Regions from separate parts of the Homo sapiens genome. Here all the other regions are linked to region 1. Evidence: fine-mapped expression QTL. A gene starts in region 1. Each other region holds a variant in brackets. All regions are shown on one strand. Distances are from middle to middle. Region 1 holds the start of KIF21B (kinesin family member 21B). Region 2 overlaps KIF21B (kinesin family member 21B). Region 3 overlaps CAMSAP2 (calmodulin regulated spectrin associated protein family member 2). Region 4 overlaps DDX59-AS1 (DDX59 antisense RNA 1).

Evidence for each region.
Region 2: its variant is fine-mapped to the expression of KIF21B in whole blood (INTERVAL, PIP above 0.99).
Region 3: its variant is fine-mapped to the expression of KIF21B in whole blood (Lepik 2017, PIP 0.95).
Region 4: its variant is fine-mapped to the expression of KIF21B in blood mononuclear cells (TOPMed, PIP above 0.99).

The regions. Positions count from the first base shown.
Region 1 is chr1:201,021,794-201,029,391 of GRCh38, forward strand. KIF21B (kinesin family member 21B) reads right to left here and starts at 1,921. Exons shown (of 35, transcript NM_001252102.2): 1 at 1,550-1,921. The coding sequence starts at 1,590. It overlaps LOC101929305 (a long non-coding RNA gene), which reads left to right and starts at 2,156. Exons shown (of 4, transcript NR_188464.1): 1 at 2,156-2,292; 2 at 3,711-3,826. RefSeq lists enhancers at 116-723, 6,768-7,062 and silencers at 1,328-1,377, 1,778-2,137, 2,489-2,646.
Region 2 is chr1:200,997,253-201,002,252 of GRCh38, forward strand. It overlaps KIF21B (kinesin family member 21B), which reads right to left. Exons shown (of 35, transcript NM_001252102.2): 9 at 4,909-5,000; 10 at 3,465-3,528; 11 at 3,138-3,356; 12 at 2,631-2,712; 13 at 2,097-2,214; 14 at 1,132-1,323. Among named protein-coding and RNA genes, the nearest start is that of KIF21B, 24 kb to the right of the region's middle. RefSeq lists an enhancer at 2,850-3,350. The variant T/G (reference allele first, on the strand shown) is at 2,233.
Region 3 is chr1:200,783,476-200,791,675 of GRCh38, forward strand. The region is part of intron 2 of CAMSAP2 (calmodulin regulated spectrin associated protein family member 2); the gene reads left to right. Among named protein-coding and RNA genes, the nearest start is that of CAMSAP2, 49 kb to the left of the region's middle. The variant A/G (reference allele first, on the strand shown) is at 4,057.
Region 4 is chr1:200,684,156-200,692,355 of GRCh38, forward strand. It overlaps DDX59-AS1 (DDX59 antisense RNA 1), which reads left to right. Exons shown (of 3, transcript NR_110787.1): 2 at 6,154-6,275. Among named protein-coding and RNA genes, the nearest start is that of DDX59, 18 kb to the left of the region's middle. The variant C/G (reference allele first, on the strand shown) is at 4,975.

The DNA of each region.
Region 1 (7,598 bases):
ATGGGTGGGGGCCAGAGCTTCATTTCCCTTTTATGGTGTTCTCGGACTCTCCCAATCTGCTGCAGATGCCATATTTACATTTCTCACTCCCACCCCCCAGCCATGCACCCCTCCCTCGACCTCCACAAGATCCTGCTGCAATGTCAGCCCCAGCAGCAGCCTGGCCCCGCCCCAGTCAGCCCACCAGGCACCTGCAGGGCTCCTCTTTGTCTCTGGCTGCTCAGGGCCAGGAAAGCTGTGCTCAAGTGATTCTTGAGTGCTGCCTAGGGTGCATGGGTGGGGGTGCCTCAATCTCCTTCCCTTCACCCAAGCACTGATCAGTGTCAGCTCCTCTTTGGGCTGCAGAGGCCTGGCCAGGTGGCCGTGGCAAGGGGCATCTGCCCTGGGGCAGGAAGAAGAAAGCTTTTTCATTGCCATCTCTGACTCTGTCTAGGAGCAACCTCCTAGGACCCCTGGAATCTGGGTCACATATGACCCAAGGGATCTAGAGACCTGAGAGACCTACCCTAGACCTGGACAATCCCCCGCCCCCTCCATCATACAGGGCTGGGGCAGAGATAGATGTTCTTGCCACATCCCTACCTTGGTGAGCAGCTCCAGATTGGCACTCTGCCGCCAAGACACCCCTCTCAAAGAGAAAAACCCAAAGCAAAAACTGGGAGAAGTGGTGAGGTGTGAAGCATCTCCACCCAGCACAAAGAACACAGATGGCTCAATTTCACAGCATTTCCTGCTCCTGCACCTTTGTGTACCCCTCCCAATAGAACCCACCCAGCCATGTCCTCTCCCTGTCTCATTTCTGCCGGCTCAAGTCCCGGAGCTGTTGAGAATGGAACCCCAGATAAGTCTAGGCAACCCTCCCCTGCTCAATTTTATCTGAGTGCCTGAGGATGGGGCATCTGCATCACACCCTCCTGCCCTCTCAGAGAGAAGCACCTCAGATACACCTCTTCCTCCCTTCCTAGGCCCATCTCCTCTTGGGACAGGACTGGTAGGATTCTCCCCCAAAGCCATTGACTTCCCACAGAAGGCCAAGGCATCATCCCAGCTTTTCCGTTGGTCCCCGCACCCGATCTTTGTCTGCAGATCTGGCTCCCAGGGTGGGTGTGCTGCCTTTGCTAGCTGGACCAAGAGCACATAACTAGCTGACTCGCATGGATGAGGGGAAATTTCCCTCTCTGGTATCCCCGTATGAGACAGCAGCCTCGTGGGGAGGCGAAGAGGAAACGCACAGACGCTCCGGCCTGGGCCAGAGCTGGGTGTGAAATACCGGATTTCCTTGTTTATTCGATTTTCTGATCATTAAGGGCTCCCAAGAGGGGCCCAAAATTACCACCCAAACAAAGCCACCTTCCAGTAGTCGGCGGGGTCGCCGCTCCCCTGCGGCAGACTGGCCAGCGCGCGGCGCCCTCCATCCCGTCCCACGCCGGCCCCTCCTCCGGGAGTGCAGGCTCCAGCCCAAGCGGTGCTCGCGCCCCCCGCCCAAAGCCCACGCGAGACAAAGCCCGAGGCTTCTCCGCGCGCCCCCTTCCCCGCCCCGGGTCCCTACCTGACGGCCACCTTGACGCAGCAGTCCCCCTGGCCGGCCATGGCCCTCTGGAGCTAGGGTCTGGGCGTGGATCAGAGGCGGGGGTCTGGGGGCCAATGCCCGAGGCAGCGGCTGCGGCTGCGGGAGGCGGGGGCGCGGGCGCGGCTGGCGGAGGCTGCGGCGGCGGCGGCTGGAGGTGACATGCTCGCGGGCGGCAGGCCGAGGGGCTCACCCGCGGCCGGCCCCCCGGGGCTGGGCCCGCGCGCCTCCTCGCGCCATCGGGCGGCGGCGCGGAGCTAGCTGACAGCCGGCGGCGCGACCCGCCGCTCCCTACGGCGCGGCACACGCGCACACACCTCCCACCCGGCAGCCACCTCCCGCCGCAGCGCGAACAAAGGGGGCGGGGGCCGATCCGGCCCCGAGCCCGCCCCGAGCCAGCCCCGAGCCCAGGCCGGGCCCCGCCCCGCCCAGGAGCCGCCAATCGAAAGCCCTAATGAGCAGTGGGGGCGGGACTCGCGCCTTTAAAGGGACCTCTTGGCTCGCGGCCACGGGGTGGCTGGGGGTAGGGGGCGGGATTGAAGGGTGGGGGTGGGGGTAGGGGTGGGAGTAGGGGTGGGGGCGCTGGACGCAGACCACGTTAGAACCTCGGCTCCTGGAGTAGCAGAACCTCGGCTTCAATGGGACCCTCATTTCATAAATGAAGAAACTGAGATTCAAAGAGGGGAACTACCGAAGGTTACAGAGCGAGTTCGTGGGTAAGCATGGTAAGAACCCTGGTCTCCCGGGGATCCCACAGCGATTGACGGTTTATAGTTCAAAAGAGCCAGGAAAGCTTCCCTTCTGCATTTATTCCAGTAAATTCGCCAACCCTTCTCGAAGGGAGTTCTTGCTAGCCCCTAACTAAAATTTCCCCCACCTCCACCCTGCAGCATCTTAAAGCTCATGTTTTAGTTGATTCCTGGCCAGGCTCCTAGCCCAAGACTAGCCCCTCCCTACTGCTAGACGACTGTCCCATTGACCTTTATGACCCACAGATGACCCCACTGGGCCTGGCTCACACTCTGCTTGTTGTGGCTGTGGGGCCAGAGGGTCAGTGTGGGAGGCCTGAGCTGCCCTGGGGGAAAGGAGGGAACAAAGGGGGCCCTCAGTTCCGAGCACCTGGGTAGAGAGGCTGGGCGGTGAAGTGGGTGGGGAAGGGAAGGAGGGCAGCTGCCTGCAGGAATGGGTATAAAGGACAAGGAGGACCATGGAGACTTTAACGCTGGGCCTGGATGGAGGAGGAGACCAGTGCTGCAAAGTCACAATTCCCTTCCCAGTCCATCTCCCTCCCTCTGAGCCCAGACGCCTCTTCCCTGCCCCCTGCCTCCCAACATTGGGGCCATTCACAGGGCCCCTCACCAGCTGCCCTCACTTCACCCAGCTCCCTCCCCTGGAAAGGGCCCAAGAGGAGGACCCAGCTGCAGCCCCAGATGTGGATGGGGATCTCTGGGGGAGGGGAGGAAGGGGAGTCTGACTCCAGGCCTCTTACATTACCCTCAGATGATGAAACCATGTCAGAGATTTTGGCAAGGGTGTGGACTGGGGTCTGAGGATGCATCTGTTGGTACCATCTTCCTCCCCTTCCCTCCTCCACTCACACCCCCCTCCCCGCCAATAACTGCTTCATGCAGTAGCTCAGATCCCTGTTTGGCTTGACCTATTAAGGTCAAATCAAAACCAAAGATAATTTCAAGGGCAAATTTCAAGGGCCAATCAACACATCCTTTTCATCCCCATGGCAAACAGGAGGAGCACCGCCAGCAGTGCCCCCATGATGGGGGCTGGAGAAGAGGTCTTGGTGGTATCCTGGACCTTTTATTAGCATTTGAATCTAGAGGAAGCTCTCCCTGGGGCCAGGGGATCACCTCTCCTGGACCAGGAGGTTAGCAGAATGTTGCAGTCATATCCTGCAACATTCCTCCCCATCTTCCAACCAAAATAATTCGTGGGGAGGAGACTAACACATATGGACCACCTACACAAGGTATTTTATGCACATATTCTCATTTTTTCCCTATAACCTTGTAAGCTAGGCTTTTTTATTCTTTTTAAATTTTGCAGATGGGGAAACTGAGCCTCACATGTATGAATTCCAGCATATAAGCAACAGACTCCAGATTTGGACATGTATATCTTATTCCAGGCTTCCCAGATGACCACCAAGGTGGAAGGGATGATGATGTCCAGGCAGAAGGGAGCTAGGCCGGCCCAGGCTTTTCCTCTAGGCACAGCGGACTCCAGGTTCAGCCTTCCCGGATGGTAATGTTGCATTCTGAAGAGCTACTTTCCCGCCAACTCATCTCTGGACTTCTCTGGGGCCCAACTCTGGTTTCCTGCCTGCAGGAGGTCCCCTCTGACTTCCGACAGTAGATGACCCTTCTGACTCACAGTTCTACTGCTGGGAAATGCCTCCAGAGCTGCTGCCCACCCTCTCTGCATCCCTCCAGGTCACTGGGTGTTGAGTCAGGGGAAGCAGGGATACACACGGGCGGGAAACTCAGGTCTCCTAAATGTCAGAGCCTCAGGACTTCGGCTACTCAGAAGTAGCTCCCTCCTGGGCCACCAGGGAGCAGCAGGGCAGCCAGCATCCAGACATCCCCCCTGGGTTCTGCTGCTCAGAGGCTAGATGGAGAACCAAGGTGGGAAAAAGGCTTAAACCACAGCGTGGGGAGATTTAGGTTAGATGGGTCAGAGGAAGTTTAGGACAAGCCTTGCCCTTTTCAGTTTCTGTCCAGCTTCAGCACAGCCACTGCTTCCTCTCTTTGGTTTTTACCCATCCCCCTCTCTCCCATCACCTCTATCCCCTTCCAGCTTTCCTTTCCTTCCCTCCTTCCCAAACCCCAGAGTTTCTCAGGATTAGCTGCCCGTGTGCCTATCTCCCCCACCCCCATGCTTTCCTCACTGTCTCACAGAAACAGGCAAACACACACACATGCATACAACCATGAGCTGGCCCTGAGAGTTCTCTGACTGGACTGGGGTTGGAGCCCCAGCTCTTGTCCTGAGCTGAGGCCCTTCCCCCAGGTATCTTGGGGCTTCCATCATTTCTCTTGACAGGAGCTGTGGGCGTCTGGGCAGATGGGAACCTGGGGGAGGTGTGGGGAGCCCTCTCTGAGGCAGGAAGCTCCCACGCTACTGTAGTTAAAATAATCCGGCAGCAACTTGGGGCAGCCATCTGGGATGCCCAGATCTTCCAGGACACCCAGCTCTCAACAACAACCCTATAGGAACAAATCAAAAACCTAAGAGATACTTATAGGCCCTGGAAATGTCTCCCAAAAGTGGCCTGAACTTGAGCCCTGTTTCCTTTTATCTTCTTCAGGTTAGCACTGGGCATTGGCATTTGCAAAAAAACTCTAAGCATTAAGCAAAACTTGTAGGAGTGGAAGATACAGCGTTCTGGACCTCCAGTCCTAATACCCAGCCACACCCCAGCAGCTATGCATGGTTCCATGGGAGAGCAGGCATAGCCCATCCTGCTGGCATATAGTCCAGCCATATCTTCCAATGCCCACCTGGAGACTAAGCCGAGTTCTGCCCAGCAACAGGAGCTCAGAGCTCCAGAGAGCCTCTCCTGGGGTGCAGACTCAGGAGATCTTAGCTCAGGAGCAGACTTAGCCTGACTTCCTCTTTTATAGGAGGAGACAGACTTAGTTACAGAGGAAACCAGAGTTGTTATAAATAGCAAGGAAGGGAGAAACCTGCTATGGATTACAAACACGCCATCAATCTTAAAACAAACTATTTTTAGTTTCAAATAATAACGAGAGTCTAATTAATGCTCTGTATAACTTCAAATGTGGGATCTTTATCTGCCTTTCTACTTTGTGATGCTTTCTAATACAGTATTAGGGCCAAAGGCAGGAAGAGATGTGGGCAATTCTCAATGTTACCAAATCCTAGATATGGAAAGAACCTGAGAAATTTAGTCCAGCCCTTTCATTTTCAGTGAAGAAACTCAGGCCCAGAGAGGTAAAAGGACTTGTCCAAAGTTGCATAGTAAGGTAGGGACTGAGCAGTGACTAAAAGCCTAGTCCCTGTACTCCAGAAGCAGGACAGTTTCCACAGCAGCACAATAGAACCCAAAGGCTAAACATCTGTGGTTGGGCAGTTGGTGAGTTTATAGCCTGGATAAAAGTCAGGTCTAAGCCAGGTGTGGAGGCTCACGCCTGTAATCCCAGCACTTTGGGAGGCTAAGGCAGGTGAATCACTTGAGGCCAGGAGTTTGAGACCAACCTGGCCAACATGGCAAAACCTCATCTCTACTAAAAAGTACAAAAATTAGCCAGATGTGACGGCACATGCCTGTAATCCCAGCTACTCAGGAGGCTGAGGCACGAGAATCGGTTGAACCCGGGAGGTGGAGATTTCAGTGAGCCGAGATCGCACTACTGCACTTCAACCTGGGGGACAAAGCAAGACTCTGTCTCAAAAAAAAAAAAAAAAAAAAAAAAATTCTGAATGAAATAGCAAAAGACAGCCCAGAAGCTGAAGTGTGGTCTTCTGAGTCACCGAGTTTTGGGTTCACATCCCAGCTCTGCAACTGACTAGCTTTGTAACCCTGGGCCTGTGTGTAACTACTCCAAGCATCAGCTCCCACATCTCAAAATGAGAATAATCACACTCACTTCATTACAGGACTATTATGAGGTTTAAATGAGGTAACGTGGGTCAAGCATCCAGCACAGTGCTCAGCAAAAAATAGATGTTAATTTCCTTCCCATTTCCCTCGGATTCTCTACCCCTTCTTCAATGGATTCTTATCCTCTAACTGGACAGAAGGGCAGATTTGTCATAAAGCAGTCACGTGAGGGATAAGAAGTCTCACATGAGTGTGAATGAGGCTGGGGGTGGGGGCGTAGTTTATGGCAATGAAGTTTGCATGGCACAAGTGGTCAGTGTCAGATCCAGAGGGCGGGAGAAGACAGATTTGCAGAAAATTATCCATCCTCTGCTAACCACTCAGTGACGGGCCTCGGGGTTCAGGGTCAGTGTTTACAGGGGAGGAGGGAGGCTGGGCATGCTGGGTCCTCATTGTACACAAATACCCCGGGCCTCAACCTCACCCATGTGCCACACTGTGCCAAGGGTGTTACATAACATTTCTCTTTTAATCCTCACAACAATCTATGAGGCAAATACTGTTCTCGTCCCCATTTTGCAGAAGAGGAAATGAGCTCAAAGGTCACTTGGCTAGTGTATAGTCATTAGTGCTGTCTCCAAATATTTCCGGCTCTCTGCCTTCTGGCACAAGGTAGGACTGCATGTTCTCACTCTTTGATGCTAGCTGTGGACATGTGACCAACTTTAACCAATAAAACGTGGCGGAACTGATGTGCGTCAGCTCTAGTGGAAGCATTAAGACTCTGGCACCCTCACACCTATGTTGTTCATAGAGTGTAAATGAGAAATAAACTTTTATTGTTAAACCACTGAACTTACAAGTTGTGTGTTGCCACGGCAAGCCTGGCCTACCCTGACACAGTTAGGAAGAGGCAGAGCCAGAGTTCGGAGGCCTGGTCTGTAAAGATGCCAGATGGCGTAAGTACCTTCCAGAGACTGACCTGCTTGCCTAAGACACACAGGAGCCCCTTTTTGGGCTACTTAGAGCCCTGTGGGGCAGGGGAGGAGGGTAGGCAGCCTCCCTACCCTTATCTCTTTCCCCCCGATTTGACTGTGATTTTGCGGGGTTTCCAGGTTGCTGAGCCGGGGGGACTGAATAAATGAGTGTGGTTTTGTATGAACCCTTAGGGGCTCATAGTCTTCTGGTTGGCTGTGCTGAGCTACTTATCAGGACTCTCTAGGAGACACTCTGAGAAGTAATTGGAAAATTCCGACTTCCTCTCTGCCCATCACCCAACTAGGAAATAGTTGGGTATCAGGACACGCCTGCATTCACTCCCAAATCAAAGATCGACCCTGTCAAGTCACTCTTTGCTTTGGGACTCAGTAACTCCTCTGTGAAATGGAGCCACTTCAAAGGGTTAGGGTAACTGCTCGGAGATTCTAGAGGAAGCCCATTTCGGATTGT
Region 2 (5,000 bases), 26 kb before region 1:
ACCTGTCCCCTCTCACTGTGCTCTAACCATCCTGGTCCCCTTATCGTTCTGCCAAAATGCCAGGCACATGGCACCCTTATGGCCTTGGCATCTCCTGTTCCCTCTGTCTGGGACGCTCTTCCCCTGGTTGGTGCTGCTCTAGCACTATCAACTCCTTCAAGTCTTTGCTCAGTGAAGTCTTCACGACCATCCTTTAAAAAACTCCAATTCGGCCAGGCACGGTGGCTCATGCCTGTAATCCCAGCACTTTGGGAGGCCAAGGAAGGCGGATCACAAGGTCAGGAGTTCAAGACCAGCCTGGCCAATATAGTGAAACCCTGTCTCTACTAAAAATACAAAAATTAGCCGGGCGTGGTGGCGGGCGCTTGTAGTCCCAGCTACTCAGGAGGCTGAGGCAGGAGAATCGATTGAACCGGGGGTCAGAGGTTGCAGTTAGCCGAGATCACGCCACTGCACTCCAGCCTGGACAACAGAGAGAGATTTTTGATTTGTTTTGTCTCAAAACAAAACAAAACAAAACTCCAACTCACTCTTCAGTAGTTCCTGTTCCCCTTCCTGGCTATACTTATCACCATTTGACACACTATAGTTTCTGCTCTTTCGTTTATGTTTGTCTTTCCCCACTAGAATGTATGCTGCACGAGAGCAGGGATTCTGTCCACTCCAATATCTCTAGCACTAGAACAATGTCTGCTCTGTAAGACATATTCAACATGTGTTTGCTGAATAAGTAAATCAATGAATGAATAAAAAATGGAATGAATGGGCTGAAGAGCAGCATAATGAAGATAGAATGTAAGAACGGTTACAAACAGGTCCAAAGGAAAAGACCCAAGGAACTGAGTGCAGGAGGAAAGGCTGGGAGTGTCATGTTCGCGTGCCTAGGTATATAAAGAATTCTAATACATGACGTGATAGCAAAGAAAAAAAATCAATTTACAATGTTTCATAGGAACTAGGGTTAGACGTAAGAACCTTTAACTGTGGGTCAAAGGACCACAGTCAAAGGTTGGGAAGTCCCTTGCCTAGAAGGCCAGGATAACCCCAACACACCAGCTGCTTTTGACAGAGGAGGGGCTCAGGGAAAAGGGAGGGTCCGGATGGGGTGGAGGGGCATGGCGGTGGCCTCACTGAGGTTCTGCAGCACACGGTCGCGCTCCAGCTGTGTGTCTCGGATCTTGTTCTGCAGCAGAATCAGCTTTTCCTCATACTGGTGCTTGAGCGTCTGCAACCGCCGCTGGCTGTTCTCCAGCTCGTCGATCAGCTTCTGCTTGATTTCGATCTCACAAGTCAGGTCGGCCAGGTCCGCCTGGAAGTTCACCTCTATGGGGGCACAATCAGGCTCAGCCCAGCGTTAGGGCGAGGGGCAAATTGGGGAGCAGATGTGCCAGTGCTGGGGAGCTGGGACCCTCCTTTGGTCAGCCATGACCAATCAGTGACCAGAGACTGGGCAAAATGATAAATCCTAATGCAGGTAGAATGCGGCCAGAAGGAGGAACACATTTAAAGAGCAGTTCCAGAAAGGCAAGGTAGGGCTCAGGAGCTGGCAGGGGGGATCTACACGTCCTTCCCAGCCATTCGAGGCCAGCATCCACCTGTTCCAGATGACATGGGACCAGCTTCAGTGGAGGAGGGTGAGATGGCTGAGAGCAACTTACAGGGCTAGGGCCAGGGCTGGCAGCAGGCAGGGCTGAAGGGGCAGGCATCTCCATTTAGAGGAGAGGGCTTTGGCACCAGTCAGGCCTACATTCATGTTTGCTCTGCATGGACCACACTGGGGAAGGTCACTAAACCCCTGTGAGCTTGTTCCTCTGTGGTGATATAGGGAAGCTCACCACCCCTATGCATACAGTTGCAGTGAAGACTGAAAGAACCTAGCCGCTCAAAGGGTTAAGGTAAGCACAGTGCCTGGCACCTAATGAACGACCAGGAAGTGTTTGCCATCATTCTCATCATGACTGCCTGTTGTCATTGGTTTCACGTCTGGGAGTGCTGGGGCCTGGACACCATTATCTTTGAGCAGGGCCCGACCCCACACTTGGGCACTGGCAGCCAGGCATTGCATCCCCCACAGCCCACAGCTCAGGCCCACGCACCCTTCTCCTCGGGGTCTGAGTCTGAGTCCACCAGGCTCTCTTCACTGCCCGAGTCCTCATCTTCATCCTCGCGCCCTTCCTCCTCCTCACAGCCACTCTCGTCTCGCTCTTCCTCCTCCTGGGCACCAGGCACCAT[T/G]GGGGTGGGCCTGGCCTCAGAGAGGGGAGCCCAGAAGCAGAGGTGCATCCCGACACAATGCCTCAGGTGTGTCAGGAGGGTGGGGATTGGGGCAGGCCACAGCTGAGCCCCCCTGCCCACCCCCTACTCCTGGAAGAGTGCCGCCTCCCCCAACACCACCGCAGAACCCCTCTAGGAGGGCCTCCCCACCTGCATCATCCGTTTGGGATGAGGTGGGGTCCTAGGGGATGGAGATCACCATGGTAACCAGTCAGAGATATAAGGAAGTACAAGGATCAACTGGATGCAGACCCAACCGCCTCCTTCACTCCATACAAGGATGCGGATGGGGCCCCCGCCAACCCCAGCAGGGACACAAGGCATGCATGTGGTGAGGTGGGGCGGCCCGTGCTCCTCACCTCCTCCGCCTCGTTCTCATCCGTCTCCTCGCTGTTCTCCTGTTGGAGTTTTGCCCTCTTTTTGAAGGCTTCCTTCTCGGGGCTGCTCAGGGAGGACAGGGAAGCTGGATTAGGAAGGCTGCCCCTGCCCTGAGCACATGGGCAGGACGGCGGCAGCGGCAGAAAAGGAAGGCTCTCACCAGAGGCCGGGGAGAGCACTGGCTCCTACTCTGCAGAGAACCCCACTGCTCTTCCCTAGGGCCACCCAGAGCTGACCTTGGCTCAGCTCAGTCCTTCCTCTCCTTGGGGGAAAGCAGATGGCATAGGAGAACGTGGGGGAGGGAGGTTGCCCAAAAGGCTGAGCAAATCTGCGCCATGAATTCCCAAGCAATACTGAGGCAGCCCCTGGGGCTGGGGGCGTGGAGGTTCCCTCCTAAACACTGGTGGGCAGCAGTCCTCCTTGGGGACGGGCAGGGTCCACTGGGGCGGTCTGAGGGCTCTCAGGGGCGGGGACGACACTCCACTCACCTCTTCCTCCGCTGCCTGACCTCCTTCTTCTTTAGCCGCTCCAGGTCCTGCTTGGCCCTGCGGATCACCTCCGAGGCATCCTCCATGGAGCTGGCAGGGCTGCCCCCGAAGGCCGGGGCGGCTGGAGAAGCACCCAGGGAGTAGGGGCTCCTAGCCGAGGCCCGTGAGAGGCTGCGGCGCAGGGACTCGTTCATGGCTTCACTCTCTAGAAGCTTAGTCCTGCACAGGAAGAACGAGTGGACGGGGCCGAGTGAGCTGCCACAGCCCTTGGCGTCACCTGGCCGAGGCCCCCAGCCCGCGCACACCTGCCGGAGCTCACTCACTCACCGTAGCTCCTCGATCTCCCGGATGTAGTTCTGGATCAGCGCACCAATGGCCTCATTGCCATCGCCTGGAGTGGGACGGCGGGAAGAAGGGTGCGATAAAGAAGATAAATAGGCCAGCGCGGTGGCTCAGACCTATAATTCCAGCACTTTGGGAGGCCAAGGCGGGCGGATCACCTGAGGCTGGGAGTTCGAGACTAGCCTGACCAACATGGAGAAACCCCGTCTCTACTAAAAATACAAAATTAGCCGGGCGTGGTGGCGCATGCCTCTAATCCCAGCTACTCGGGACGCTGAGGCAGGAGAATCGCTTGAACCTGGGAGGTGGAGGTTGCGGTGAGCCAAGATCACACCATTGCACTCCAGCCTGGGCAACAAGAGCGAAACTCCGTCTCAGAAAAAAAAAAAAAAAAAAGATAAATAGCAGCAAGGGTCTTCAACACCACTGATACTACTGCTCTTATATCTGTGCCTCTAATAGGGCAGCTCATATGGGCCTTTTCCAAAAAGAAATCTATAGAAAAAATACTTTGCACAGAGGTATACAAGCACTGTTGGCAATAGCAAGAAACTGGAAACAACCTAAATGCCCATCACTAGAAGGCTACTATAATAAATTTATTCATCATTGTCACATATGGGACACCATGGCAGAAGATGAAGAGAAGTAGGTTTTTTTAAATTTTTATTTTTTGGTTAGAGCCAAGGTCTTGCTCTGTCGCCCAGGCTAGAGTCACAGCTGACTGCAGCCTCAGCCTCCCGGGCTCAGGCAATCCTTCCATCTCAGCCTCCCAAGTAACATGAACTACAGGCATGTGCCACCACATCTGGCTAATTTTTGTATTTTTTGTAGAGACTAGGCGTCCCTATGTTGCCCAGGCTGGTCTCAAACTCCTGGGTTCAAGTGATTCTCCTGCCGTGGCCTCCCAAAGTGCTGGGATTACAGGCGTGAACCAGAAGTAGGTTTAATATGGAAAGATTTATAAAACATAATGCTAAATGAAAAAGGGAAGTCTTAGAGCAATATATATAATCTCATACATAGAAAAAGTAGTCTATATCATACACACATTTAAGAATGTATATGAATACATATTCATACTTGAAACAAATACTGAGAAAGGTGTGGGAAAATACACACCAAGCTGCTCATAGAGGTTCCTTCTGAGAAGTAGAGAGGGCTTGGGGTGGAGGGTTCAGGGAGAGGCGATTTTAATCTTTCACTTCATATAGTGATGTATTGTTTGCATGTTGAACAAGAAGGATGTGTTCATGTATTACTTGTGCCATACAAAAATGTTTTAAAATCAAGTGAAAAAAAATGCATAAATGAGTTGAACTATGAATTGACTGGCTGGCTTAGTCCACCTGATACTCTGGGGTGGATGTCGGGGGAGGGAGTCCTAGCCCGTTGGTGCTCTGACCTGGCCTGGCACAGCCCAACTCACCGGCCTTGGCTAGCAGCAGGTTGGCCTCCTGGCTCATGAGCTGGGTGACGCGGTTGTTGATGGCATCGATGGCCTCCTGCATGGCTTTCACC
Region 3 (8,200 bases), 240 kb before region 1:
ACATTTTCTTTTCTTTTCTTCTTTTGAGACAAGGCCTTGCTCTGTTGTCCAGGCTGGAGTGCAGTGGCATGATCACGGCTCACTGCAGCCTCGACTTCCTAGCCTCTATCAATCCTCCCTCTTCAGCCTCCTAAGTAGCTGGGACTATAGGCGATTGCCACCATACCTGGCTAATTAAAAAAAAAATTTTTTTTTGTAGAAACAGGGCCTCACTGTGTTGCCCAGATAGTTTTGAACTCCTGGGCTCAAGTAGTCCTCCTGCCTTGGCCTCCCAAAGTGCCGGGATTACAGGAATGACCACCATGCCCAGCCTGCGTTTCATTTTCTTCGTGGTGTCTTTCAAGGAATTTTAAATTTTGATGAAGACCAGTTTACAATTTTTTTCTTTTTTAGTTAGTGCTTTTATGTCCTAAGAAATCTTTTCTTGCCTATATTATGGTTGTAAAGATTTTTTTCCCCTATGTTTTCTTCTCGAAGTTTACAGTTTTAGCTTTTTCATTTAGAACTATGATTCATTTTGGATCAGTTTTTTTGTATAGTGTGGTCGAGGTTCATTTTACCCTTTTTTTTTAACAAGATTATCTAGTTGTTCCAGTAGTATTTATTGAAGACTGTTGTCTCCTCATTGACTGACGTCGACACCTGTGTCTCTTCCATTGATTTAGATGTCTGTTAGGCTGTGCCACACAGTCTTGACTAATGTAGCTTCATAATAAGTCTTGAAACTTGTTAGTGTAAGCCATCCGGCTTTGTTGTTTTTTATCAAAATTGTTTTCGTTATTCTAGGTTCTTTGCATTTCCATATAAATTTTAGAATCAACTTGTCAATTTCTATTAAAAAAAAAGCTTGCTAGGATTTAGATTGGAATTGTGTTGAATCTATAGACCATTTTGGGAAGAATTAATAGTTTAACAATTTGTGTCTTCCAGTGAAAACATGGTTTCTCTTCTCATTTAAGTATTCTTTAATTTATTTCAGTAGTGTTTTATAGTTTTTAGCATATGAGATTCATATGCACTTTGTTGAATCTTTCATATTTTTGATTTGGAATTGCATTTCAGATTTAATTCTTAAATTATTTATTGCTAATATATAGAAATACAATTGAATTTTGAACATTTTTTTTATCCTGTGACCTTGCTATATACATTTATTCCTAGTATGTTTTTGTGGATTTGTCAGAACTTTCAACGTAAACAATCATGTTGTCTGTGAATAAACACAGTTTTACTTCTTCCTTTCCACTATGTATGTGGTCTGCTCCCCGCTTCTTATTGCACTGCCAAACACTAACAGTTAATGTTGAGTAAAAGTGGTGAGACCAGACATTTTTGTCTTATTCCTCATCTTATCAGGAATCTGTTGAGTTCCCATTGTTAAATGTGATATTATCTGTAGGATTTTTGAAGATGTTCTTTTTCGGGTTAAGGGAGTGCCTTTCTGTTCCACGTTTGCTAAGAAATATATGTATGTTTATGTTTTTAAAATCATGAATAACTGCTGTATTTTTCAAATGCTTTTTCTGCCTCTATTAAGATAATCATATGGCTGTTCTCATTTATCCTGTTAATAGGTGAGTTACGTTGATTTCAAATATTAAACTGGTCTTGAATTCCTGGAGTTAAACTCAGTTGGTCACGGTAAATTATCTCTTTTATATATTGTTAGGTTTAATTTGTTAATATTTTCTCAAGGGTGTTTACAGCCATGTTCGTGAGAGATATTTTTCTTCTCATTTCTTTGTCTTGTGTTAGCATCAGGGTAATACTGTTTTTATATAATGAGTTGCAAAGTGTTCCCTACTCCACTGTTTTCTGAAAGACTTCACTTAGGATTTCTGTAATTTCTTCCTTAAATGTGGGGCAGAATTCACTAGGTATGCCACCGGGGCTTGATGTTTTCTTTTTTTTTCTTTTGTTTTTTTTTTTTTTGAGGTGGAGTCTCACTCTGTGCCCAGGCTGGAGTGCAGTGGCCTGATCTTGGCTCACTGCAACCTCTGCCTCCCAGGTTCAAGCGATTCTCCTATCTCAGCCTCCGAAGTAGCTGGGATTACAGGTGTCCCCCCACCACACCTGGGTAATTTTTGTATTTTTAGTAGAGACAGGGTTTCGCCATGTTTGCCAGGCCGGTCTCGAACTCGTGACCTCAAGCAGTCCATCTGCCTTGGCCTCCCAAAGTGCTGGGATTATAGGCGTGAGCCATGTGCCTGGCTGATATTTTCTTTTTTTTGAGACAGAGTCTTGCTCCGTTGTCCAGGCTGGAGTGCAGTGGCGTGATCTTGGCTCACTGCAACCTCTGCCTCCCAGGTTCAAGTGATTCTTGTGCCTCAGCTTCCCAAGTAGCTGAGATTAAAGGCATGTGCCACTACTCCTGGCTAATTTTTTGTATTTTTAGTAGAGAAGGGGCTTCATCCATGTTGGTCAGGCTGGTCTCAAACTCCTGATCTCAAATGATCCACCTGCCTTGGCCTCCCAAAGTGCTGGGATTACAGGCGTGAGCCACGGCACCCAGCCAATTTTGGTTATTTTATATCTTTTAAGACATTTGTCCATTTCATCTAAATATGTCAATTTATTGTCATTAAGTTGGTTATAATACTCCCTTATTATCTTTTTAATATCTATAGAACCTGTGGTGATATCCCTTTTTACTTTCCTGGTGTTATTAATATATATGGAGGTTTATCAATTCTGTTAATCTTTTCTAAAAACCAGCTCTTTGTTTCAGTTTTTTAAACTAATTTTTGCTTGTTTTCTGTTTCATTGATTTCTGTTCTTTATTATTTCTTTTCTTTTTCTTATTTTGGCTTTTTAAAAAAATCTAGCTTCTTAAGATGTACTCTTAGGTCATTAATTTTAAAGCTTTCTTCTTTTCTGATACAAGCACTTAAAGCCATAAATTGCTTTCTTTTTTTTTTTTTTCTTTGAGATGGAGTCTTGCTCTGTCGCCCAGGCTGGAGTGCAGTGGCGCAATCTCAGCTCGCTGCAGCCTCCGCCTCCCGGGTTCAAGCGTTTCTCCATCCTCAGCCTCCTGAGTAGCTGGAATTATAGGCGCCCACCACCATGCCCAGCTAATGTTTGTATTTTTAGTAGAGACGAGGTTTTGCCATGTTGGCCAGGCTGGTCTGGAACTCGACCTCAGGTGATCCACCAACCTCAGCCTTTTAAAGTGCTGGGATTACAGGCATGAGCCACTGCACCCAGCCTAAGCAAGATTTTCGATGTAGATGAAATAGCCTTCCTTTAGAAGAGGATGCCATATAGGACTTGCATAGCTAGAGAGGAGAAGTCAGTGACTGGCTTCAGTGCTTCAAAGGACAGGTTGACTGTTTTGTTATGGGCTATGTGGGCTAATGTAGCTGGTGACTTTAGATCGAAGCCAGTGCTCATTTACCATTCTGAAAATCCTAGGGCACTTAAGAACTATGCTAAATTGACTATGCCTGTGCTCTATAAGTAGAAAAACAAAGCCTGGATGACAGCACATCTATTTATAGCATGGTTTACTGGATATTTTAAGCCCTTATTGAGACCTGCTCAGAAAAAAAAAAAAAAGATTCCTTTCAAAATATCACTGCTCGTTGACAATGCGCGTGGTCACCCAAGAGCTGTGATGGAGAGGGACAAGGGCATGAATGTTTTCATGCCTGCTAACACAGCTTCTGTTCTGTGGCCCATGGATCAGGGAGTAATATTGAATTTCAAGTCTTTTTATTTAAGAAATAACATTTTCTAAGTATATATCTGCTATAGATAGTGATTCCTCTGTTGGATCTGGGCAAAGTAAATTTAAAACCTTCTGAAAAGGATTTACCAATCTAGATGCCATTCATGATTCGTGGGAGGAGATCAAAATATCAACATGAACAGGAGTTGGGAAGAAGTTGATTTCCAACTTTTAGGGATGACTTTAAGGGGTTCAGTACTTCAGTGGCAGAAGTATCTGCAGATGTGGTAGAAATAGGAAGAGAACTATAATTAGAAGTGAAGCCCGGAGATAGGACTGAATTGCTGTAATCTCATTATCAAAATTGTCTGGATGAGGAGTTGCTTCTT[A/G]CAGATGAGCAAAGTGGTTTCTTGTGATGGATCTATTCCTGGTGGGGATGCTGTGAACATTGTTGAAATGACAACAAACAATGGATTTACAGTATTATATATCAAGTTAGTTGGTGAAGCAGCGGCAGAGTTTGATAGGACTGACTCCACGTTTGAAAGAAGTTCTACTGTGGGTAAAATGCTATCAAATGGCATCACATATTATAGAGAAATTTTTGGTGAAAGAAGAGCCAATCAGCACGCAAGTTTTGTTGTCTCAAGAAATTGCCACAGCCATCCCCTCCTTCAGCAATCACCACTCTGATCGAACAACATGGAACCAAGACCCTCCACCATCAAAAATACTGTGTTTCATTGAAGGCTTGGGTGATTGTTAGCATTTTTTAGCAATACAATATTTTTAAATTAAGTTAGGTACATTGGTTTTTTAGACATAATGATATTGCACTCAATAGATTACAGTATAAGCATAACTTTTATATGCCTGGGGATATTAAAAAATTGTGTGACCCGGTTTATTATGCTACTTGCTTTATTGCAATGGAATGGAATGGAACCTGCAATATATCCAAGGAGTGCCTGTAGTTGGAATCATAAAGAATGTAGCCTTTTCACATTGACTTTTTATTTAATAATGTGCACTTAAATTTCCTCCCATGTATTTTTATAACTTGATTGCTCACATCTTTTTAGCACTGAGTAATATTTTGTTGTCTGAATGTGCTACAGTTTTAAAAATTCATATATCAACTGAAGAATGTCTTGGTTGCTTCCAAGTTTTGGCAATTATGAATAAAGCTTACATAATCATCTGTGTTTAGGTTTTTATGTGGACATAAGTTTTCAGCTCCTATAGGTATATACCATGGAGTGTGATTGCTGGATCATAGAGTAATAATATGTTTAGTTTTGTAAGAAATCACCAAACTCTCTTCCAAAGTGGCTGTATCATTTTGGATTCCCACTAGCAGTGAATGAAAGTTCCTGTTGTTCCACAGGAACTTTCCAGTCCAGTATTTGGTGTTGTCAGTGTTGTGGATTTAGACGTTCTAATAGGTTTTAATTTGCATTTCCCTGATAATATATGACTTAGAACATCTTTTCTTTTTTTCTTTTTTTTTTTTTTTGAGACGGAGTCTCACCCTGTTGCCCAGACTGGAAGTGCAATGGCACAATCTCGGCTCATTGCAACCTCCGCCTCCTGGGTTCAAGCAATTCTCCTGCCTCAGCTACCCAAGTAGCTGGGATTACAGGTGCCTGCCACCATGCCTGGCTGACTTTTGTATTTTTTTTTTTTTTTAGTAGAGACGGAGTTTCACTATGCTGGCCAGGCTGGTCTCGAAATCCTGACCTCGGGTGATCCGCCCACCTCAGCCTCCCAAAGTGCTGGAAATACAGTCATGAGCTACTGTGCCCGGCCAGAACATCTTTTCATATGCTTACTTGCCATCTTTATATCTTCTTTGGTGAGGTGTTTGTTAAGGTTGTTGGCCTGTTTTTTAATTGGGTTGTTTTCTGAGTTTTAAGAGTTTTTTGTATATTTTGGATAACAGTCCTTTATCAGAGATGTCTTTTGCAATTGTTTTCTCCCAGTCTGTGGCTTATGTTTTTCATTCTCTTGACACCCTTCCGCAGTGCAAAATTTTTTATTTTAATAAAGTCCAGCTTATCAATTATTTTTTCATGGATTGTGCATTTGGTTTTGTATCTAAGAAGTCATTGCCAAGCCCAATATTATCTAGTTTTTCTTCTGTTATCTTCTAGAAGTTTTATAGTTTTGTTGTACATTTAGGTCTGTGATTCATTTTGAGTTAATTTTTATGAAGGCTGTAAAGTCTGTCTAGAGTCTTTTTTTTTTCATGTGGATGTCTGGTTGTTCTAGCACCATTTGTTAAAAAGACTGTCTTTCTCCACTGCATTGCCTTATTTGCTTCTTTGTCAGAGATCAGTTGACTTTGTTCGTGTGCTCTATATTCTGTTCCGGTGATCTATTTGTTCTTTTGCCAGTACCACATTGTGTTGATTACTGAATCTCTGTAGTGAGCTTTGAAGGTGGGTAGCATCAGTTCTCTAACTTTATTCTTCTCCTTCAATATTATTTGCTATTCTAGGTCTTTTGCCTCTCCATGTAAACTTTAGATCAATTCATCAATATCTACAAAATAACTTGCTGGAATTTTTACTGGGATTGCATTGAATCTGTAGATCAAGTTGGGAAAAACCGGTATCTTGATGATACTGAGTCTTTTTATCCATGAACATGGACTCTCCATTTATTTAGTTCTTTGATTTTGTTAATCAGTTTTATAGCTTTCCTCACATAGATCTTATGCATTTTTTTAGATTTATACTTAGTATTTATAATTTGGGGGTGCTAATGAAAATGGTATTTTGTTTTTAATTTCAAATACCACTTGTTCATTGTTGGTATATAGGAATGTGTTTGGCTTTTGTATGTTAACCTTGTATCCTGCAACCTTGCTATAATATGGTGGTAAGGTGTGGGGGAGAGGAGAAGCATTCTATAGTCCTATAATTAGGTCTCAGGCTTTTAGTGAGCCTATGCCTCTGGACTGTGGACTTCATAAATGTTTCTCAGGTTTTTTTCTCCTTCTTTAGGTGGGTCAGGAAGGCTAGAGGGGACAGGATTTGAATGTTTCCCTCTCCCAGGTCAGTTAGGCTTTGATAGTACCTTAACAGATTAAGCTCTGGTTTAACCTAGTTTCTTCTGAGGGCAGGCCTTGTTAAGAAGAATGGAGTGCTCTAGTATATTTAGAAATTCTCTCTCCCCTCCCACTGGAACCATGGGGGCAGCGGGGCTGGGGGGAAGGGTTGGGGACAGTTTCTGATATTTATTGTGAGAACCTGTTCAAGCCAGAGCCTGGTTGAGCTCTTGAAGGTAAAGCTCCCTATAACTTGATCCCTTGGAGTTTTAACTCTCAGACTTGTTTACTCTGAACCTGCAACAATTCATCAGTTACAGTTTAGTTTTCCTTCTCCAGCACTGGTTCCCTTGGCTGTTTCTGTTTGTGAGTCTTTGCTCTGGTAATCTGTGACTTCCCTTTGCCTGTCTGTCTCTCCATCCTTTGGGCTGGTGGTTTGCCTTGTGTTCTCACCTTTCTTTCAGATCTACCTAGAATTGTTGATACTTCATTCTGTTCAGCTTTGTGCTTGTTGTTAGAACAGAGTGACTGCTAAGGTTTTTACATGCAGACCAGAAACTAAAGTCTTCTTTCTTTTACATTTTTTTGTAGTGCACATTTGCTAGTGACATCTTTAGATCAATAAACATTGAGAAAAGTTATCTTTATTTTACCTCCTTTTTTTTTTGAGACGGAGTTTTGCTCTTGTTGCCCAGGCTGGAGTGCAATGGTGCCATCTTGGCTCACTGTAACCTCCGCCTCTCAGGTTCAAGTGATTCTCCAGCCTCAGCCTCCCAAATAGCTGGGATTACAGGCACATGCCACCATGCCTGGCTAATTTTTGTATTTTTAGTAGGGATGGGGTTTCACCATGTTGGTCAGGCTGGTCTCGAATCCCTGACCTCAGGTGATCCACCTGCCTCGGCCTCCCAAAGTTCTGGGATTACAGGCGTGAGCCACTGCATCCGGCCTTTACCTCCATTTTTGTAGGTTATTTTTGCTGAGTAAGATGCATTCTGTGTCTTATGGCTTGCATTGTTTCTGAGAGAAGTCAGATGTTATTCTTATCAGATTTCCTCTGTATGTAATGTGTAATTTGATTTTCTTCAGCTGCTTTTAAGATTTCTTTCTTTTTTTTTCGGAATTTGGTTATGGTGTGCCTTAATGGATTTTTCTTTGTATTTACCCCGTTGGGGATTTTTAAAGCTACTCATATCCTTGAGTTTATAGTTTTCATCAAAATTGGAAAAATTTCAGCCATTATTTCTCTGAATATTATCCCCCACCATGTTTTTTAGACTCCATTTGTATAACTGCTTGCTATTGTCCCACACACAGGTCACCGATGAGGCTCTGAGGCTTTGTTCATTTTTTTAAGGCCTTTTTTCTTTTTATGCTTTAGTTGGATAGCTTGAAATATCACTGGAAGTTGAGAACAGGAAAATCTGTTATATTTACAGTCTTATTCCTGTGGTCCCTTTCAAAGATGTATTCTGTTGCAG
Region 4 (8,200 bases), 340 kb before region 1:
GAAATGAGTAAGAAGGCATTCCACTTTAAATATCAGTCTTCGGTGAGTTGGTTACCGTGAGTCCTTTCATCAGAGACCAATCAACTCTCTGAATCACTGATCAAATTTACTTTCAGAACTTACATAGCTAACTTCACTTTGGTGACCACATCGATGTAAAGTAACCGTGTGAGGCCTTGCTGGAGTAGTCACCCTGTCTCTGTAAATCTATATCTTATTGATTGCTTCATTAGGTCACTTTCTTCAAAGTGTTTTCTTTCAATGGCAATTTACTCTGTGAGGCAAAATAAGGCAGTACTACATATAGAAAATAAAAATAACATTAAAATTTGAGATTTTTGTTTGAGTGTCGTGGCTCATGCCTATAATCCCAGCATTTTGGGAGGCTGATGCAGGAGGATCCCTTGAGCCTAGGAGTTCAAGATCAGCCTGGGCAACATAGTGAAACCTCATCTCTACAAGAAACTAAAATGTGTGTGTGTGTGTGTGTGTGTGTACACACACACGTATGTATACATGTATATACATAATTTGAGATCTTTAAAATATGGGGAAAGTTGGGTATTTGACTTAATCTATCAAAAACTTCTAAGTTTGAGATATCCTTCTTACAAATCATTGATAAAATGTGAATTCAAAATTTGTCAAGATTTTTAAATGATAATATCCAGCTTTAGTAAGCATATAAAGAAACTCACGCTCCTGTACATTGCTAGTCAATTAATACAATAGCAGTATTTTTTAATCAAGTGCTTAAAAATATTTGTACTTAGCAATTTTTCTTTCTAGGTTTTTTTTCTTATGGTGTAATTACTGATACAAATAGAGCTATATTTTGGGGATGTTTATTATGTTAAAGATAATGTTATTCTGAAAACAATCTCTTAAGTATTGAGTAAGAGATTAGTTTAACTAATTTTTATGCATCTGTACAATGGAATATAATGCAACCGTTAAAAATTAGGTTGAATAGGCCGGGCACGGTGGCTCACGCCTGTAATCCCAGCACTTTGGGAGGCCAAAGCAGGCGGATCATGAGGTCAGGAGATTGAGACCATCCTGGCTAACATGGTGAAACCCCGTCTCTACTAAAACTACAAGAAGTTAGCCGGGCGTGGTGGCTGGTGTCTGTAATCCCAGCTACTCAGGAGGCTAAGGCAGGAGAATGGTGTGAACCCGGGAGGCAGAGCTTGCAGTGAGCTGAGATCGTGCCACTGCACTCCAGCCTGGGCAATAGAGCAAGACTCTGTCTCAACAAAAAAAAAATTAGGTTGAATATTTAATGACAGAGGATATTAATGGCCTATTAAGAGAAAAAAAGTTAAAAACTGCATGCTTGGTATGACTCAATGGTTTTGAAAAAATAAATGTGAAAAAATTTATATGAAAAAAGATGAATTCATAGCAAATATTAATAGTTGCACAAGCATAGACATATAGGTCAGAAAAATAGAATTGAAAGTCCAGAAGTAAACCCTTTCACTTATGGTCAATTGATTTTTAACAAGGGCGTCTAGCCAATTCAATGAGGGTAAAGAATAATCTTTTCAATAAATGTTGCTGGGATGACTGGATATCCATGTATAAAAGAATTAAGTTTGCTGGGCATGGTGGCTCACGCCTGTAATCCCAGCACTTTAGGAGGCCGAAGTGGGCACATCACCTGAGGTCGGGAGTTTGAGACCAGCCTGACCAACATGGAGAAACCCCATCTCTATTAAAAGTACAAAATTAGCCAGGCGTGGGGGCGCATGCCTGTAATCCCAGCTACTCAGGAGGCTGAGGCAGGAGAATCGCTTGAACCCAGCAGGCGGAGGTTGCTGTGAGCCCAGATCACGCCATTGCACTCCAGCCTGGGCAACAAGAGCAAAACTCCGTCTCAAAAAAAAAAAAAAAGAATTAAGTTTAACCCCAGCCTCACACTTACCAAAAATTAAATCAAATGGATCAGACTCTAATCTCTAATGTCAGAGCTAAAGTTAGAAAATCTGTAGAAGAAAATACAGGCACAATTTTCATGACCTTGAGTCAGACAAAACCTTCTAAGATACAGCACCAAAAGCGTAAGAGACAAAAGAAAAAAATAGATAAAGTAGACTTCATCAAGTTAAAAACTTTTGTGCTGCAAGTGATACTATCATGAAAATAAAAGACAATTCATAGAATGGAATAAATGATTTGTAATTAATATATATCTGATAAGAGACTTGTAACCAGAATTTATAATGAAGTCTTAATACTTTAAAAAAAAAACAAATTTTTAAAAGGACAGAGGATCTGAATAGACCCTTTTCCATAGAAAATATGCAGATAACCAATACATGAAAAGATGCTTAACATCATTGGTAATTAGAGAAATGCAAATCAAAACCACAATGAGATAGCACTTCACACTTACTAGGATAGCAATATATATATAGTTGGCAGACAATATAAAGGGTTGTCAGGATGTGGAGAAATTGGAACCTTTATACATTGATGATGGGACTGTAAAGTGGTACAGCCATTTTGGAGAATAATTTAGCAGTTCCTCAAAATATTAAACGTAGGGATACCATATGACCCAGAAATTTCAGTCTCCTAGATTCTAAGAGAATTAAACACAAGTATTCAAACAAAAACTTGTACATGAATATTTATAGCAGCATTATTCATGACAGTCAGAAAGTGGAAACAACCCAATATCCATAATAAATGGATAAACAAATTATGTTATGTACATACAATGGAATGCTATTCGGCAATTTAAAAAAATTAAGTACAGATACCTGCTACAACATGGAGGAATCTTGAAAACATTATGCCAAGTGAAATAAATCAGTTGCAAAAGGCCACATACTGTGATCCTATTTATATGAAATATCCGGAATAGGCAAATCTCTAGAGACAAAAAATAGATTAGTAGTTGCTTAGGACTGAGTAGGGGGAAATGTGTGTTAGGGAAATGAGGAGTGATGCTAATAGGTTTCTTTTTGGGGTGATGAATTATTCTAAAACTAGGTGCTGATGATGGTACAACTCTAAATACACTTAAAAAATTGAGTTGTGCACTTTCAATGGGTGAATTTTATGGGATGTGAATCTCAGTAAAGCTGTTAAAAGTGTTAATAGTAGTTATCTCTGATGGTGGGCTTATGGTAATTTCTTTTTCTTCTTCTTCATAAATATCTCCTACAATAAAAAAGTATCGCTGGGCGCAGTGGCTCATACCTGTAATCCCAGCACTTTGGGAAGCCGAAGCAGGCAGATCACAAGGTCAGGAGTTTGAGACTAGCCTGGTCAACATAGTGAAACCCTGTCTCTACTAAAAATACAAAAATTAACCAGGTGTGGTGGTGCATGCCTGTAGTCCCAGCTACTTGGGAGGTTGAGGTGGGAGAATCACTTGAACCTGGGAGGCGTAGGTTGCAGTGAGCTTAGATTGCGCCATTGCACTCCAGCCTGGGTGACAGAGTGAGACTCTGTCTCAAAATAAATAAATAAATAAATAAATAAATAAATAAGAAAGTGTTTTTACTTGTAAGAAAAAAGGAACAGTTATTGGTTTTAGTGGATTATCTCAACAAGGCAACAGAATTTAGTAGAGCGTTTCAGGGGTTTGAGAGCATTTTTTTTTTTTTGAGACAAGGTCTCTCTCTGTCACCCAGGCTGGAGTGCAGTGGCGTGATTTTGGCTCACTGCAACCTCCACCTGCCAGGCTCCAGCAATTCTGTCTCAGCCTCCTGAGTAGCTGGGACAACAGGCACCCACCATCACGCCCGGCTAATTTCTGCCATTTGCCCGGGCTTGTCTCAAACTCCTGAGCTCAGGTGATCCGCCTGCCTTGGCCTCCCAAAGTGTTGGGATTACAGGTTTGAGCCACCAGGCCCGGCCAAAACCATTCTTAAATACATGTCCCTAGAAGAAAACTGCTCCATTCTCCCATTCCATTTCCCACATCTTATTGTTCTCTACTGTAAAATAGAAGGTTTTTTTTCCCTTAAAATAATGAAACCTGTGAGTGTTTCTATTTTCTTCATTTTATGCAGGATTCATTTCAGGCTGAATGCCTTTTCATCTTTGACTTCTCATTGTTTGCTGCATCATAAGAAACTTCTGCACTTCAAAATCTTAATTTTTATGGGAATACATTCAGTGTGCTTTCAGAAATTGAGCTTAATACTTTAATCCAATTTAACAGATTGCATTCTTGCTCTTTCCTTATCCCAGGACCAGATATCATTTGGTTATAATCCCTTAACAGTTATAAATATTAACAACAATGAATGCAGCTTGCAAAAAAATTAAATTTCAATTTAACAGTGTAATAATGTGCTGTGAGAATTAAAATGACTTGTTAAAATATAGCCTACAAATTATATGAAAGCATTGTCGAAATTAGGGATTTTCTGTTTATTATAGCATATTTTGATGTGTTGATTAATCGATTATTGCAGGTAGGTGGATTATTCAGTGTCAGATGATAACTGGACTTAAGTATGAGCGATCATGGTTGCTTAAAAGAGGTCTACTTAGTTGAAAGGCAATACTACTCAAACAGTGGGAAAAATCCATAAACATGTTATAATATCAAATTTTCCTCTTAGATATACACCATGAAATTTAAAATGGCTACATTAAATTGTGGGAGACATAGCCCACAAAATCTGAAATAACTGATGGAAAAGTACTTGAAAAAGTTAAGAGCTTTTTTTGTGTGTGTGAGATAGAGTCTCGCTCTGTTGCCCAGGCTGGAGTGTAGTGGCATAATCTCAGCTCACTGCAACCTCCACCTCCCATGTTCAAGCGATTCTCTATCTCAGCCTCCCAAGTAGCTGGGACTATAGGTGCATGCCACCACACTTGGCTAATTTTTCTGGTGGTTTTTTTTGTTTTTTTTTTTGTTGTTTTTTTTTTGTAGAGACAGGATTTCACCATGTTGGTCAGGCTGGTCTTGAACTCCTGACCTCAAGTGATCTACCCACCTCGGCCTCC[C/G]AAAGTGCTGGGATTACAGGCATGAGCCACTGATCCCAGCCAAAAGTTAAGAGCTTTATAAAATATAAAATATTATCATTATTATCACATGAAGTAAGAAGACTATGTGTCCTTAGAAAGGATGAACATAGGCCAGGCGCAGTGGTGCACACCTGTAATCCCAGCACTTTGGGAGGCTGAGGCGGGCAGATCACGAGGTCAAGAAATCGAGACCATCCTGGCCAACGTGGTGAAGCCCCATCTCTACTAAAAATACAAAAATTAGCTGGGTGTGGTGGTGTGCACCTGTAATCCCAGCTACTCAGGAGGCTGAGGCAAGAGAATCGCTTGAACCTGGGAGGCGGAGGTTGCAGTGAGCCAAGATCGCATCACTGCATACTCTAGCCTGGGAAGCTGAGTGAGACTTCGTCTCAAAAAAAAAAAAAAAAAAAAGAAACGATGAACATAAGCATTTGCAAGAAATATTCAAGTTAAAGGTTTTTCGTTTTGTTTTAATGTTTATTCTTGAAGTCAGCTTTCTGAAAAACAGCAGGAATTCTGCAGAGATGCTCGGAAATCAGGAATGAGGGTAGCAGCTTTCAGTTTTATACCGAGGGGTGATTTCATTTAAACACAGGATCTGGAGTAAAAATGTTTGAAAACCATGACCGAGGCCTGGCGCGGTGGCTCACGCCTGTAATCCCAGCACTTTGGGAGGCCGAGGCGGGAGGATCACAAGGTCTGGAGATTGAGACCATCCTGGCTAACATGGTGAAACCCCGTCTCTACTAAAATTTAAAAAAAATTAGCCAGGCGCGGTGGCGGGCGCCTGTAGTCCCAGCTACTCGGGAGGCTGAGGCAGGAGAATGGTGTGAACCTGGGAGGTGGAGCTTGCGGTGACCCGAGATCGCGCCACTGCACTCCAGCCTGGGCAACAGAGCGAGACTCCGTCTCAAAACAAACAAACAAACAAACAAACAAAAAAACATGACCGCAGATGTATATGTTTAAATCCTTTCAGTATTAATTGATGGATTATGACCTACCCCTGAATAATAAGGTGGAGAACTGAAGGCTCTTCTTTCTTTGGTGAGGCAGGCAGACCCATAGCTGGGCTGAAACCTACTGTCAGAAGTGTTAGGTATGTACGGTAATGGCCCAAGTTTATTATTATTATTTTTATTTACTTTTTTTTTTTAGACGGAATCTCACTCTGTCACCCAGGCTGGAGTGCAGTGGCACAATCTCAGCTCACTGCAACCTCGACCTCCCAGGTACAAGCAATTCTCCTGCCTCAGCCTCCCAAGTAGCTGGGATTACAGGTATGCACCACCACGCCCAGCTAATTTTTGTGTTTTTATTAGAGACAGGGTTTCACCACATTGACCAGGCTGGTCTTGAACATCTGACCTCAGGTGATCCACCCGCCTCGGCCTCCCAAGGTGCTGGGATTACAGGCGTGAGCCACCGCGCCCAGCAATGTCCCAAGTTTATAAGAGCCAAGGATGTAGTTGTGCTTGCATCCCTTGGAGATTATATTTAAGCAAAAGGACAGTGATGGGGGTGGGAGGAGAGTGCACTGGGGGTGTGTGTTTGTCCTTATAAGCAAATGCAAGATTAGGCTTTCACTCAGTGTTATAATGTAATAATTATTTTGGAAGAAAAATTTCACACTGGGGCTATATCAGAGCTTTTCACTAGGGTTTCCTGCCTGTTTCCTGGGCCGCCTTACTCACTCTACTGTAAAATCCCTGAAGGTAAACACTCTGACTTTTTTACCTTTGTATCACCAGCACCTTGGCAGTACCTGATACAAAAATATTTGAATTACTTACAAGATTTAATAATCTAGCAAGCTACCAACAAAATGATAGAAATTTATTTTCCAGCTTAGGGTAATTGATGGCCCTCACACTAGAGAAAGCATTAGCAGGTGCCATTTGCAGATTTTTTTGGAAAAGAATAGAACCAAAGGGAGCTCCTGGCCCCAATATTCTCCCTCTTAAACATTCTTATCCCTACACTTAGAGTTTCCATACTTTTTATAAGGTTAAGTCATGCAAAAGATTGCACTGTAAACCTGGATAGCCTGTTTTTCTGGAAGGTCACAGTTTTAAATAACTGTGCCATTTTAATTATTCCCAAAACAACATTTCAAAAAAGCATTGCAAATATTTTCTGATTTGAATTAGATTTTGAGAAATGTGAAGATGTTACATTTTTGGAGTCAATTAAAATTTTGCTATGAATATGGCTGATACATCTTAACCTAATTTGCTTTCTATAAATAGGCAAGTATCAATTTGTATATTTTCTTAATTTTAATTTTTCACCTTGTCACTAAAAAAAAAACAGTATTTAGTTTACTGTTTAATTGCTTTTTAAAATAATCATAGTAGCATAAATGTGTCATATAGTAGGCTGTGGAATTGATTTCCTTTCATATGTAGAAATTGAAAAATAATAAATAATAATTTTACCTAGCCTTACTTATGTTCATCTTACATGTAGATAGATTTCATAATGACCAAAAAAAGAAAAAAACCTAAAATTTTCATGGGTTACTTTTGGAGGATGCTAGGGAATCAACTTACAATTTTAAAATGTGTAAGTAAAAAGAAAGAATCAAACGATTGTCTGACCTTTCTGTATAAACTGTACCTCAGGGTAACCATTAGTGGATGAAAGAAAGTTTTCCTTTATGGGGATATTCTAGCTAATGAGTAGAGCAGGCATAATAGAATTAGAATATCACAGTGCTGCAATCTCTAATGAAATAATGGATGCAAGCAAAGATCACCAATGATTGCTAAAAGCATTAGGGGAAAAGCTGACGGAGAACTTTATAGCATATGATTCAGCCTGGCAAAGCCTGAATCCACTGATCAATCAGCCTCACACAAAGAGACAACCATGTATTGTGTGTCTCTAATGAAAGTACACAAACCACTTACAAAGTATCTCACCAAAAAATTGAACCTCAATTGAATTGAACCTCTAGATGTATTCATTTACAGAAAATATAACAGATAGAGGAATCTTTTAAACGACATCAGTGGGATGCAATTAGCAAAATTCAGACTGTGGGAAACTTTACGGGAAAAACGACAAATACATTTCAAGGAAAGAAAAGTGAGAGTGACAGAAACAGGGGAGGAACCCATAGTTTAAAAGAAACATACTAACTAAATGTAGTATGTGATCCTTATTTGCTTCCTCATTTAAAGGAACTGATGGTAAAAAAAAA